Regions from separate parts of the Homo sapiens genome. Here region 1 is linked to region 2. Evidence: fine-mapped expression QTL. A gene starts in region 2. The other region holds a variant in brackets. All regions are shown on one strand. Distances are between the middles of the regions. Region 1 overlaps NSMCE1 (NSE1 component of SMC5/6 complex). Region 2 holds the start of NSMCE1 (NSE1 component of SMC5/6 complex).

Region 1 (5,371 bases), 41 kb after region 2:
TTTCTGTGAGGGTCCAGTGCTCTCTGACCTACATGGCCTGGTAAGGGTTGCCTTGAGGTCTGCGGCACTCTGGAGGAATCACTGAGAACCGGGGCGGGTGCTCACTTACCCAGGACAGGTCTTCCTAGGGCAGCACCTCGATCAGAGAGACCACATGTCAGTGTCTGATCCTTGGCCTCTCAGACACAGGGCTTCCCACAGAAATAGCCAGGGGCCCACTGACAAGGCCCTTCCAGGTGGGTATATCACCCCAAGGACACGTCACTCCTGGACAGCCAGTCCTGTGTGAGACTGGCCCGGCATGGAGGTGCTGAGGCAGCTGTCCGTCCAGGAGAAGGCCCAGGGGTGGTAGGTGGTTGGGGTCAGCGGGGAGGCCTCTGAGAGCAAGCGCGGCTCATGGGAGCTGGGCGTCTGCTGATCGGCGCACCTCCATACACCCCAGGACTGCTCCCTACACGAGGTCCTGACTTCCAAGTGTTGTGGCGAGGCGCCTGGGAGATCACCTGGGCTGTCGTCGTCTTTGAGGGCTAGGGCATCCCTCCTGCCCCTCCCCTGATGGGCCCTCAGAGGACTGAGTGGGTCATGAATGGTGAGCCTTGGGTGCAGTTTCAGGCACATAGCAGGTGTTCAGTAAATGCAGCTTGGCTGGGTGCAGTGGCTCAAACCTGTAATTCCAGCATTTTGGGAGGCCAAGGCGGGTAGATCACTTGAAGTCAGGAGTTTGAGACCAGCCTGGCCGATATGGTGAAACCCTGTCTCTACTAAAAATATAAAAAAGTTAGCTGGGTGTGGTGGCGGGCATCTGTAATCCCAGGTACTCGGGAAGCTGAGGCAGAAGAATCGCTTGAACCCTGGAAGCAGAGGTTGCAGTGAGCTGAGATCGTGCCATTGCATGATCTAGCCTGGGCAACAAGAGCGAAACTCTGTCTCAAATAAATAAATAAAAAATAAATGCAGCTCCTGCCTCAGTCTGAGCTTGAACTTGCTTAGTGTCAGGCATTCCTTTGGGATCAGTGCAAGGTCTACTTCATCTTCCCGTGGGTGTTTATCACAGGCCTGCCAAGTGCTGGGCCCCACAGCAGGTGCTGCGGACACAGGAGTGAGCACAGCCAGAGCTGGTGGCCGCTCCCATGGGGCCATGGTCTGGAGGGGGAGCCCGAGATCAGTGAGACGGTCATCTCACTGCAGTCCTGGTACAGATGGAAAGGAAACATGGCTTTATGACAGCTGTCCCAGAGGAACCGGCCCTCAGCTGCTGAGGAAGTGACACTTGAGCTGAAGGCTGTGTGGGAGTTGCCTGGAGCCTGGGGTGGGAGGATCATCAGCCCGGCAGTGGCCCTGTGGCCAGCAGGTGCACTCAAGAAGCTAAGGCCAGGGCCATCTGAGCACAAAGATTGCGAGGCGAGCAGACGGAGGGCAGCCCGGGAGATACGCGTATTAGGGGCTTGGCTCTTGGACCTAAGGGTGGTGGGAAGCCCTGGGGTGGGGGTGAGTTGGGAGTGACAGGGCCAGGCTTGTTCGGTAGCGAGTGCGTTGCTGGAGGAGAGTGGGCTCAGAGAGCAGCAGGAGCAGGGGAGGGTGGAAGAGGGTGGAGGCCGGGGAGGTGGGTTGCCATGATGGATCTGTAGGGGAGGGTGGAAGAGGGCGGTGGCCGGGGATGTGGGGTACCATGATGCATCTGGAGGGGAGGGCGGAAGAGGGCGGTGGTTGGGGGTGTGGGGTGCCATGATGGATCTGGAGGGGAGGGTGGAAGAGGGTGAGGGCTGGAGAGGTGGAGTACCATGATGGATCTGGAGGGGAGGGTGGAAGAGGGTGGTGGCTGGGGATGTGGGGTGCTGTGATGGATCTGGAGGGGAGGGTGGAAGAGGGTGGGGGCTGGAGAGGTGGGGTACCATGATGGATCTGGAGGGGAGGGTGGAAGAGGGTGGTGGCTGGGGATGTGGGGTGCTGTGATGGATCTGGAGGGGAGGGTGGAAGAGGGTGGGGGCCAAGGAGGTGGGGTGCCGTGATGGATCTGGAGGGGAGGCTGGAAGAGGGCGGTGGCCAGGGAGGTGGGGTGCCATGATGGATTTGGGAGCTTTGGGGGAAGGTAACAGCCATAGGACTGAGGACCGAGGACAGCCTGGGGGCTGGTCACATCCTCCCATTGCCCACAGCACTTGGATGACACAAAGCCCCTGTGCACCAGCAACAGCTGCGGTGCAGGGCACAAGCACCTGGTGCCCCGGCCTCCCTCCACTGTTCCCGCAGCGGCTGTCCATGCCCCAACCCCACGCTTCTGCCCTGCCTTCCTTCCTGTGCTCACCCAGCTCCTCTACTGGTGTTCCAGAGCGAACGCACTGTGAGCCCAGATTACGCAAGCACACCCCTCCACATTGCACTGTGGGGATGAAGGTGGGAATGGGGTGGGGGGCTCTACCTGTCAGAAACGGGAGTGGGCTGGGTGCGGTGACTCACGCCTGCAATCCCAGCACTTTGGAAGGCCGAGGTGGGCGGATCACCTGAGGTCGGGAGTTCAAGACCAGCCTGGCTAACATGGTGAAACCCTGTCTCTACTAAAAATACAAAATTAGCCAGGCGTGGTGGCGCATGCCTGTAATCCCAGCTACTCAGGAGGCTGAGGCAGGAGAATTGCTTGAACCCGGGATGCGGAAGTTGCATTGAGCCAAGATTGTGCCATTGCATTCCACCCTGGGCAACAAGAGCAAAACTCCATCTCAAAAAAAAAAAAAAAAAAAGAAAAGAAAAGAAACGGGAGTGACAGCTCTTGCTTGTAAAAATTAAAAATTAGAAAATAACAGAAAAGGCAGTTGAGCACTCGGGTGACTTGCAGGCGTCAGTGACGTCATCTCCTGGTGTGGTTCATATCCGATGCATGAGCTGACTGTGGAGAAACTGGAATCAGCCTGCATGGGTCCATGTCCTGGGTCCCGTGTCATTTGCCTGCCTTGGGTCTCCCTCAGTGCTGCCTTTCTCCTGTGACCTGGCAGTAGGGTCGGCCTGGGGAGCTGCATTGTTCTTGTGCTTCCGGGCTCTCCCAGGGATTTCAGGATGCATGATGGGTGGACCGCACCCTGGCATGGGAACCAGGAGGCCTGGCTTCCACTGGAGGCTCCACTGCCCACAGTGTGATGGGGCCTGTCTGCCCTCTCCAGACTCCTT[C/T]CAGCTCCATCTGTAAAGTGATGTGGCTGGAAGTGATCTCTGAGGGTCCCTACTGCAGTTGGAGGCAGAAGTGCTGGGAGGCAGAAGTGCTGGGAGGCACCAGGGATGCTGCTTTTTGGGAGTGGGATGGGTGGCGGATGGCAGCAGTGGGTGTTTGGGTTTGCACCCTGGGGAGACTGACCCCCTTGTGGGCCTCAGCGTCCTCATCTGCAGGAGGGCTGTGACTGCCTCCCTCGAGGCTGCCGTGCAGACAGAGAAGTCACGTCTGAAGGCACAGCAGATGCTGAGAAAAGGCGGGTGTCAGGGAGCCACGCCTCCATGTCTTTAGGGTCTTTGCCTCAGTTTCCCTTGCCGAGGCTCTGCCAGGGGGATGTGGCTGATGCCCGTTGGCTGGGGTTGGTGAAAAGCTGCGTAGACCCTTGTGTCTTCCTGAGCACTGGGCTGTGGGATCACAGAGGGAAGAGAGGTGGTGAATGGGGAGAGGGCCTGGCTGAGGGTGGCCACCTCCTGTGTGTCCCTGCAGAAGGAAGGGGAGTTCACCCTGCACGGCCGGGCCATCCTGGAGATGGAGCAATACATCCGGGAGACGTACCCCGACGCGGTGAAGATCTGCAATATCTGTCACAGCCTCCTCATCCAGGTACCCGCAGGGCAGGGCACGGGAGCTCATCACTGGGCCCTCGGCTCCCGGGGCTCTGTACAGGTACTTCCCGGAATCCTGGCTCTGGGCCCAGCCCTCCTGCACTGCTGGCGCATCCTCCCACAAGAGCTGGCGGAGGCCATCTCCCAGGACGTGTCAGGACGCCTCCCTGCTGTGCCCCGCAGGGACGCACTGCCGCCCTCCTCCCTGGTTCTGCTGTTGGGGTCCAAGGGCCCTCGCTTACTTTATTTTTCTCAGGAAGGCTGAGTGTTCTGTGCAACCTGCATCATCTTGGTAGTTTTGTAGTGAGTGTCTCTTGTCGATTGCTGCTTTCTGGAGTGGTCTTAACACTGGTTTGCAGGGCTTTGCAACCGCTGAACCAGCGTGGACATTGATGTGTCTTTCAGTTTCTATCGTTTTGCAGCTGTAGCTGTTTGTAATTGCAATTGCTCTTACGGGCCTCGTACACCTGTATCCTTGGGCACCTGGTGATTATTTCCTTGGGCGGAGTTTCTGGGACAAAGTGCACTTTTTTTTTGAAAGCTTTTGATTCACATTAGCAAATAAGCTTCTGAAAAGCTGTGGCTGTCCACACGCCACCTGCAGGATCTGAGTGCAGGAGTTTGGGAGCCCTCGGCTTCTGTCACTGCGTTCATGTGTTCAGAATTGTTTAGTAAAACCCACCGCAACAAGCAGCAAGCAAACAAAAGACTCCACTGCACTAAGGCGTTTGGGATTATTTTCAATATTAATCTGGGGCCCAGAAGATAACACGATGCCACCTGCTGCCCATTTCCCTTGTGGCTTCCCCGGAGGTTTGCAGAACATGGAGGTGTGCACCAGCTCCGCCGTCATTGGCCTTTCCTGTTTCAGGGTCAAAGCTGCGAAACCTGTGGGATCAGGATGCACTTACCCTGCGTGGCCAAGTACTTCCAGTCGAATGCTGAACCGCGCTGCCCCCACTGCAACGACTACTGGCCCCACGAGATCCCAAGTGCGTGGGCCCTGAGGAGCTCATGGGAGGGGCTGGGCCAGCAGGACGTGGGGCCTGGTGCCAGGGAAGCCCTTGGAGACAGGGCCCTGAAGGGCTCCAGGGTGTGTGGGGGTCCGTGTTAGCAGCTTGAATCCTAGAAGAAGCCACTGCAGGAAGTAAAGGCTGAGCTACGTGCACCGCTCCAGAGGACTTTCTAGAACCCAGCTGAAATTCCAACGTGTATGAGCATTTTGTCTAGACAAGGCTCTCTCTCTGGCAGCCCTCTCAGGAGGGGGACGTGAAAGCTATGTCCACAGCTCCCTCAGTTTGTTCCTCTCTGAACTGGGGCTAACTCTGCCTTCCTCACGGGCTGGGGAGGGTTAGCAGTGAAGGATGGTGTAGACCTAGGACAGTCCTTGGCACAGGAGACGTAGCTGCTGGCTCCAGCTGGTGCCCCTGTGCTGCCAGCCCCTCCATTCACTGTGTCTTTCCTGCCTTTTCTGTCTACAGAAGTCTTCGACCCTGAGAAGGAGAGGGAGTCTGGTGTCTTGAAATCGAACAAAAAGTCCCTGCGGTCCAGGCAGCATTAGCCATCG
Region 2 (5,371 bases):
AGGGTTTTATGTGAAATGTCCCAAGTTTATTTATTTATTTTTGAGACAGAGTCTGGCTCTGTCACACAGGCTGGAGTGCAGTGATGCAATCTCAGCTCACTGCAACCTCTTCCTCCTTGGCTCAAGCTGTCCTCCCACCTCAGCCTCTTGAGTAGCTGGGACCACAGGTGTTCACCACCATGCCTGGCTAATTTTTGCGTGTGTGTGTGTGTGTGTGTGTGTGTGCGCGCGCGCGTATATATTTTTTTTGTAGAGATGGGGGCCTCACCATGTTGGCCATGGCTGATCTCAAACTTCTGAGCTCAAGCCATCCTCCCAGCTGGGCCTCCCAAAGTGTTGGAATTACAGGAATGAGCCATCATGCCCAGTCAAAGATTGAAAACCCCAACTTTAAATATTGATAATGAATAGAAAATTTCACAAAACCATGTAGGGCAAACAAAACACAAATATTACTCCTTAGGGCTTTATTTCCCCTCTTATTTGACTACCTATTAGGCAGTTTATAAAGAACTTATTAGTGGTGTTAGTTCACACTTATTGAGGGCTTACAATGTGCCAGAGACACTCTTCTAAGTAGTTTACGTTTACTCTTCCTTTAATCTTCAGAATAACATTATCAACAAAGTGTTATTATTAAACCTGCTTTATAGATGAGCAAACTGAAGCTGAAAACTTGAGCTCAGTCATCCCTTAGTATCTGTGAGGGATTGGTACCTTAGTCCCCATGGATACCAAAATTCTCGATGCTCAAGTCCCTTATGTAAAATCAAAACCACCTTTGTAAAAAGCATAACTGAGAAAATTATGATAGTGAAAGAGATCTGGCCTGACTCCATCTTGCTTCTAACTTCCAAGCTGTCCTTGATCATTCCTGGACATAGGTGGAATTAATGTTGGAAAGAACTTAGTTTATAGTTTAACTTTGAAACAAAGGCAATAATAGCCCTTTCCCAAAACAAATCCCCTCCTTGCCTAGGAACGGGTCTGCCTTTGTAGACTAACAAATTAGCTAAAAGATTAGAAATTATGGTTTAGGAGGTCACGCAAGCTGGAGGCTACAAGATTCTGACCCTCCCCAGATTGCTTCCGGGAGTAACATCACTGTTCTAAAACCTAAAATCAGTGCTTGAGATATTTTGCAGAACCCGTGTTCTAATGCACCAGCTGACGCCACCCAGCCCTGTAATCTGGCTAATCTGGTCCTATGGTCCTAACCCAGGATCTGACTCAGTGCAAGAGGACAGCTTTGACTCCTTTCCTCTCTGATCCAACCTATCAACACTCTCTAATCCCCAGCACCTCCAGCCACCAAATTATCCTTGAAAACCCTGAATTTCCAGGGAGACTGATTTGAGTAATAATAAAACTGTGGTCTCCTGTTCAGCCAGCTCTGTGTGAATTAAACTTTCTCTATTGCAATTCCCCTGTCTTGATAAATTGGTTCTGTCTAGGAAGCAGGCAAGGAGAACCATTGGGTGCTTACAAAATGCGAGAATACTTGCATTTAACCTACACAAATCCTCCAGTATATTGAAAATCATCTTTAAATTACTTACAATACTTAATACAATGTAAATGCTATATAAGTAATTGCTATGCTGTATTGCTTTCGGAATCTGTATTATTTTTATTGTTGAACTGTTATTTTTTACTGTTTTCCCCCACAAATATTAACCACCCACAGTTGCTTCAATCCGTAGATGGGGAACCTGTAAACATGGACAGCTGACTGTACTTTGTCCTATGTCTCAGAGACACTGAGTTTAAGGCCCAGGATTCCATGTTGACCATCCAGCTCCAAAGCTGAAGCTTTTAATCACCACACACCACTGCTTTCCCACTTAGCAGATGAAACTGAAGCCCAGAGAGGTTAAGAGGTTGTCCAAGATCACAGGGGTGGTGAGTGACCAAGCCTGGATTTGATCTATCCTCACAGAGACAGATATTTGCAGGTACTGCTGTTCTATATTAGTTACCTGTTTCCCTTGCTAGGCTGCATCCCTAGCTCTCAGACCAGGGATAGAATTCAAACGTTTGGAAAATTAACGCCTTGAAGACTCAAAGCAGTCCATTCACTTCCACGAGTAATTTCACTTGCTTTCTCACAATCCCTAGGTAAGATAACAGTTAACATATAATCAGCACTCCCATGTGACACTTTTCAATGGCCATGCTAAGCACCTGATATAGGTGTTATTATCTCTTGTAAATCTCACCAACACTATTTTGCAAGAACTAATATCCTCATTTAATGGAAGAGGAAACTGAGGCTCAGTGACTTGCCCAAGCGCCTGCCAACTAGTAAGTGGCAGAGCCAGGATTCTAGATCAGGCTCTATGACCACAGAGTCCACATTTTTCTTTTCTTTTTTTTTGAGCTCTGTCACCCAGGCTCGAGTGCTGTGGTACGATCTGGCTCACTGCAACCTCTGCCTCTCGGGTTCAAGTGATTCTCCTGCCTCAGCCTCCCGGGTAGCTGGGATTACAGGCACACACCACCACGCCCGGCTACTTTTTGTATTTTTAGTAGGGACGGGGGTTTCACCATGTTGGCCAAGCTGGTCTCGAACTCCTGACCTCAAGTGATCGGCCCGCCTTGGTCTCCCAAAGTGCTGGGATTACTTACAGGCGTGAGCCACCGCGACCGGACCAGAGTCCACATTTTTGACGTCGAGGCCACACTCAGTTCCACAGATGGGGAAACTGAGGCCCGGGGCAGGGCACTACATTGTGCCAGCGGAATGGTGGCCATTGAGGGAAGCCCAGGCTGCACGCCAATTCTTCCTCCTTGGTCAGGGAAGTCACTGAGGTGCAGGAGGCGGAGGGCGACAAGTGGAAGCCCCTTCCCATTATTAAGGATCGAGAGCGGGCGTAATTTGGGATCTAACCCACGAGGCGGAACCACCAGGGCAATGGCGCAAACGGAGAACCGGAAGTGCGTCACTCAACGGACGGGCGAATAAGCCGCAGGCCACCAATGGGAACGCCGCGTTCGCGTTCGCCCCGCCTCAAAGGAAGAAGAGTCCACCTTGCGACCGTATCCGCTAGCGCGGCCTGGGATGCGCTTGGGCTCCCTGGTGGGTAACGTGGGGAGCTAGGGGTTGGAGGGGAAAGAAGAGGGACTTCAAGGAAGGCGAGGGGAGGACGGAAGGTGGGGTGGGCGAGACAGGCAGTGGGGTCCGGCCCCGGGGTCGGTCCCCGTGGGCTGTGGAACTCGGGGACTGGGGTCTTGGGGTTTCCCCCTTCTTGATGGGGAAACTGAGGCCCAGACAGGGGCCGCAGAAAACAGCGGACTGGGATGTCCTCCCGCAACACACACGCAGACATCTAAAAATCTTACTATTTAGTGAAAAATATTTTTAATCGTAATTACGATTTAACAGGTAAAGATACTTTTCATTGTAACAGGTGAAAAAGCAAAATATAAAATTCGATTCAAACTGTGATTACATCTATGGAAAATACAGCCTTTGCCGACCACCCTCTTTGTCCCGCCGCCCTCCGTGCTCCCCTCTGTTTTGTGTACGGAGTTTCTTACTTTGTACAAGTCCGCAGCCGCTTATGTTACAGCCCCGAGGCCAGATGCGTTTAAAATCGAGGAGTTCTCGGAGTTTGGAAAGGTAAAGTCCCTATGTTCTATGTTAGGTTTCACCCTCAGAGGGGGCTGGAGCAGCGGCTTGTAATCAAATACACGACCCTTTCCACAGCTAAAGTTATGAAGATACGCATATATTACATTGACCTGGTCGCGGTGGCCCACGGCTATAATTCCAGCACTTTGGGAAGCTGAGGGGGGCGGATCACCTGAGGTTCGGAGTTCGAAACCAGCCTGGCTAATATGGTGAAACCCTGTCTCTACTAAAAATACAAAAAATTAGCCGGGCGTGGTGGTGCGTGCCTGTAATCCCAGCTACTCGGGAGGCTGAGACGGAAGGCTGAGGCAGGAGAATCGCTTGAACCCGGGAGGCGGAGGTTGCAGTGAATCAAGATCGTGCCACTTCACTCCAGCTTGGGCAACAAGAGCGAAACTCCGTCTCAAAAAAAAAAATGCATATATTTACACTGTTGGGATAAATAACCATAAATAGCCTCACCTTAAGTCAGGTCAAGTTTTCCAACTTAAACAAGTTTTGGTATTCAGACTTTTTTTTTTTTTTCCCCTGCATCCGATCATCCACTAGTATTCATACCTTTTTAGATTTGAGGGTTGCAGATGAGGGACCTGGATTGTAGTTGTTCTGTTCACTCACTTTTCTCACTCTCGCTGGATAGAGAGTGTCCTTGAAAACAGGAACTGTGCTGTTGTATGGTCACGTCTATCTCTGCCACCAACTCTTGTGTGTCACCTTGTGCCCTCTTAGTCTCAGTTTCCTCATCTGTAAGATGGGGTCAGTGACCCTTTGCTCATAAGGTTGTTCTGGTTTGGGTTAAATGAGGTCGGGCATGTGAAGCACTAGAATTGTGTTAGCACCCGCACGAATGGTATGACTGAGATTTACTTATTCCACAAACATTTCTATTTTAAAATTATTAAATTTAAATAAATTGATTTAATTAATGCATTTAATTAATTTAATAATAAATTTAAACGTATAGATGTATTTCTTAAAATGTGGGTGATAGGAATTTTAAAGATTTATATAATGCTTCAAAAGCCTTCGAAAAGGTTTTTTTAATTGGTTTATCTGTATATATGAACTCTTGAAACTTATGGCTAAAACACTAGGATTTATCTGCAAGGTTGCAGAGAGATAATTCTGCCTTAAATTGGCTAAAACAAAAACAAAACCAGCCAACCTATATTATACATGGGATTAAAACCAATTTTTCTCCCATTTTTTTTCTCCTTTTTTCTTTTGCTGCCCACATTATGCCTTATTTTATGAGCCCCAGTTTTCTGGGCTTAGTTAAAAAAAATTCAGTTCTAAACATTGAATTTAGGGAGTTTTTGTTCTTGAATAAAAAGGCATATACTTAGAAAAAAAATCTGTTTATCCGGGAAAATATATTGAAATCATGCTGCTGAGCCTCTATTTTCTTTGATGTTTTGGTTCTGTATTATTTTATCATAACTTTTTAGCATTTAAAAATTTACTGATGTACATTTAAAGCCAATAAACTGTTTTAATTAATTTTTTTAAAAAAAGTAATTTTTTTTTTCTTTTTGTGACAGAGTCTCGCCCTGTCGCCCAGGCTAGAGTGCAGTGACGCGATCTTGGCTCACTGCAACCTCCACCTCCTGGGTTCAAGCGATTCTCCTGCCTTAGCCTTCTGAGTAGCTGGGATTACAGGCGTGCACCACCACGCCTGGCTGATTTTTGTATAAAATAAAATTATTTAAGTAGGTAATACATGTCTATGCTAATCCC

What was found.
Region 1: its variant is fine-mapped to the expression of NSMCE1 in whole blood (TOPMed, PIP above 0.99).

The regions. Positions count from the first base shown.
Region 1 is chr16:27,225,151-27,230,521 of GRCh38, reverse strand. It overlaps NSMCE1 (NSE1 component of SMC5/6 complex), which reads left to right. Exons shown (of 8, transcript NM_145080.4): 6 at 3,686-3,802; 7 at 4,676-4,796; 8 at 5,286-5,371. The coding sequence ends at 5,365. Among named protein-coding and RNA genes, the nearest start is that of KDM8, 24 kb to the right of the region's middle. The variant C/T (reference allele first, on the strand shown) is at 3,163.
Region 2 is chr16:27,266,414-27,271,784 of GRCh38, reverse strand. NSMCE1 (NSE1 component of SMC5/6 complex) reads left to right here and starts at 3,013. Exons shown (of 8, transcript NM_145080.4): 1 at 3,013-3,079. NSMCE1-DT (NSMCE1 divergent transcript) reads right to left here and starts at 3,580. Exons shown (of 5, transcript NR_037184.1): 1 at 3,541-3,580. RefSeq lists an enhancer at 1-131 and a silencer at 3,040-3,119.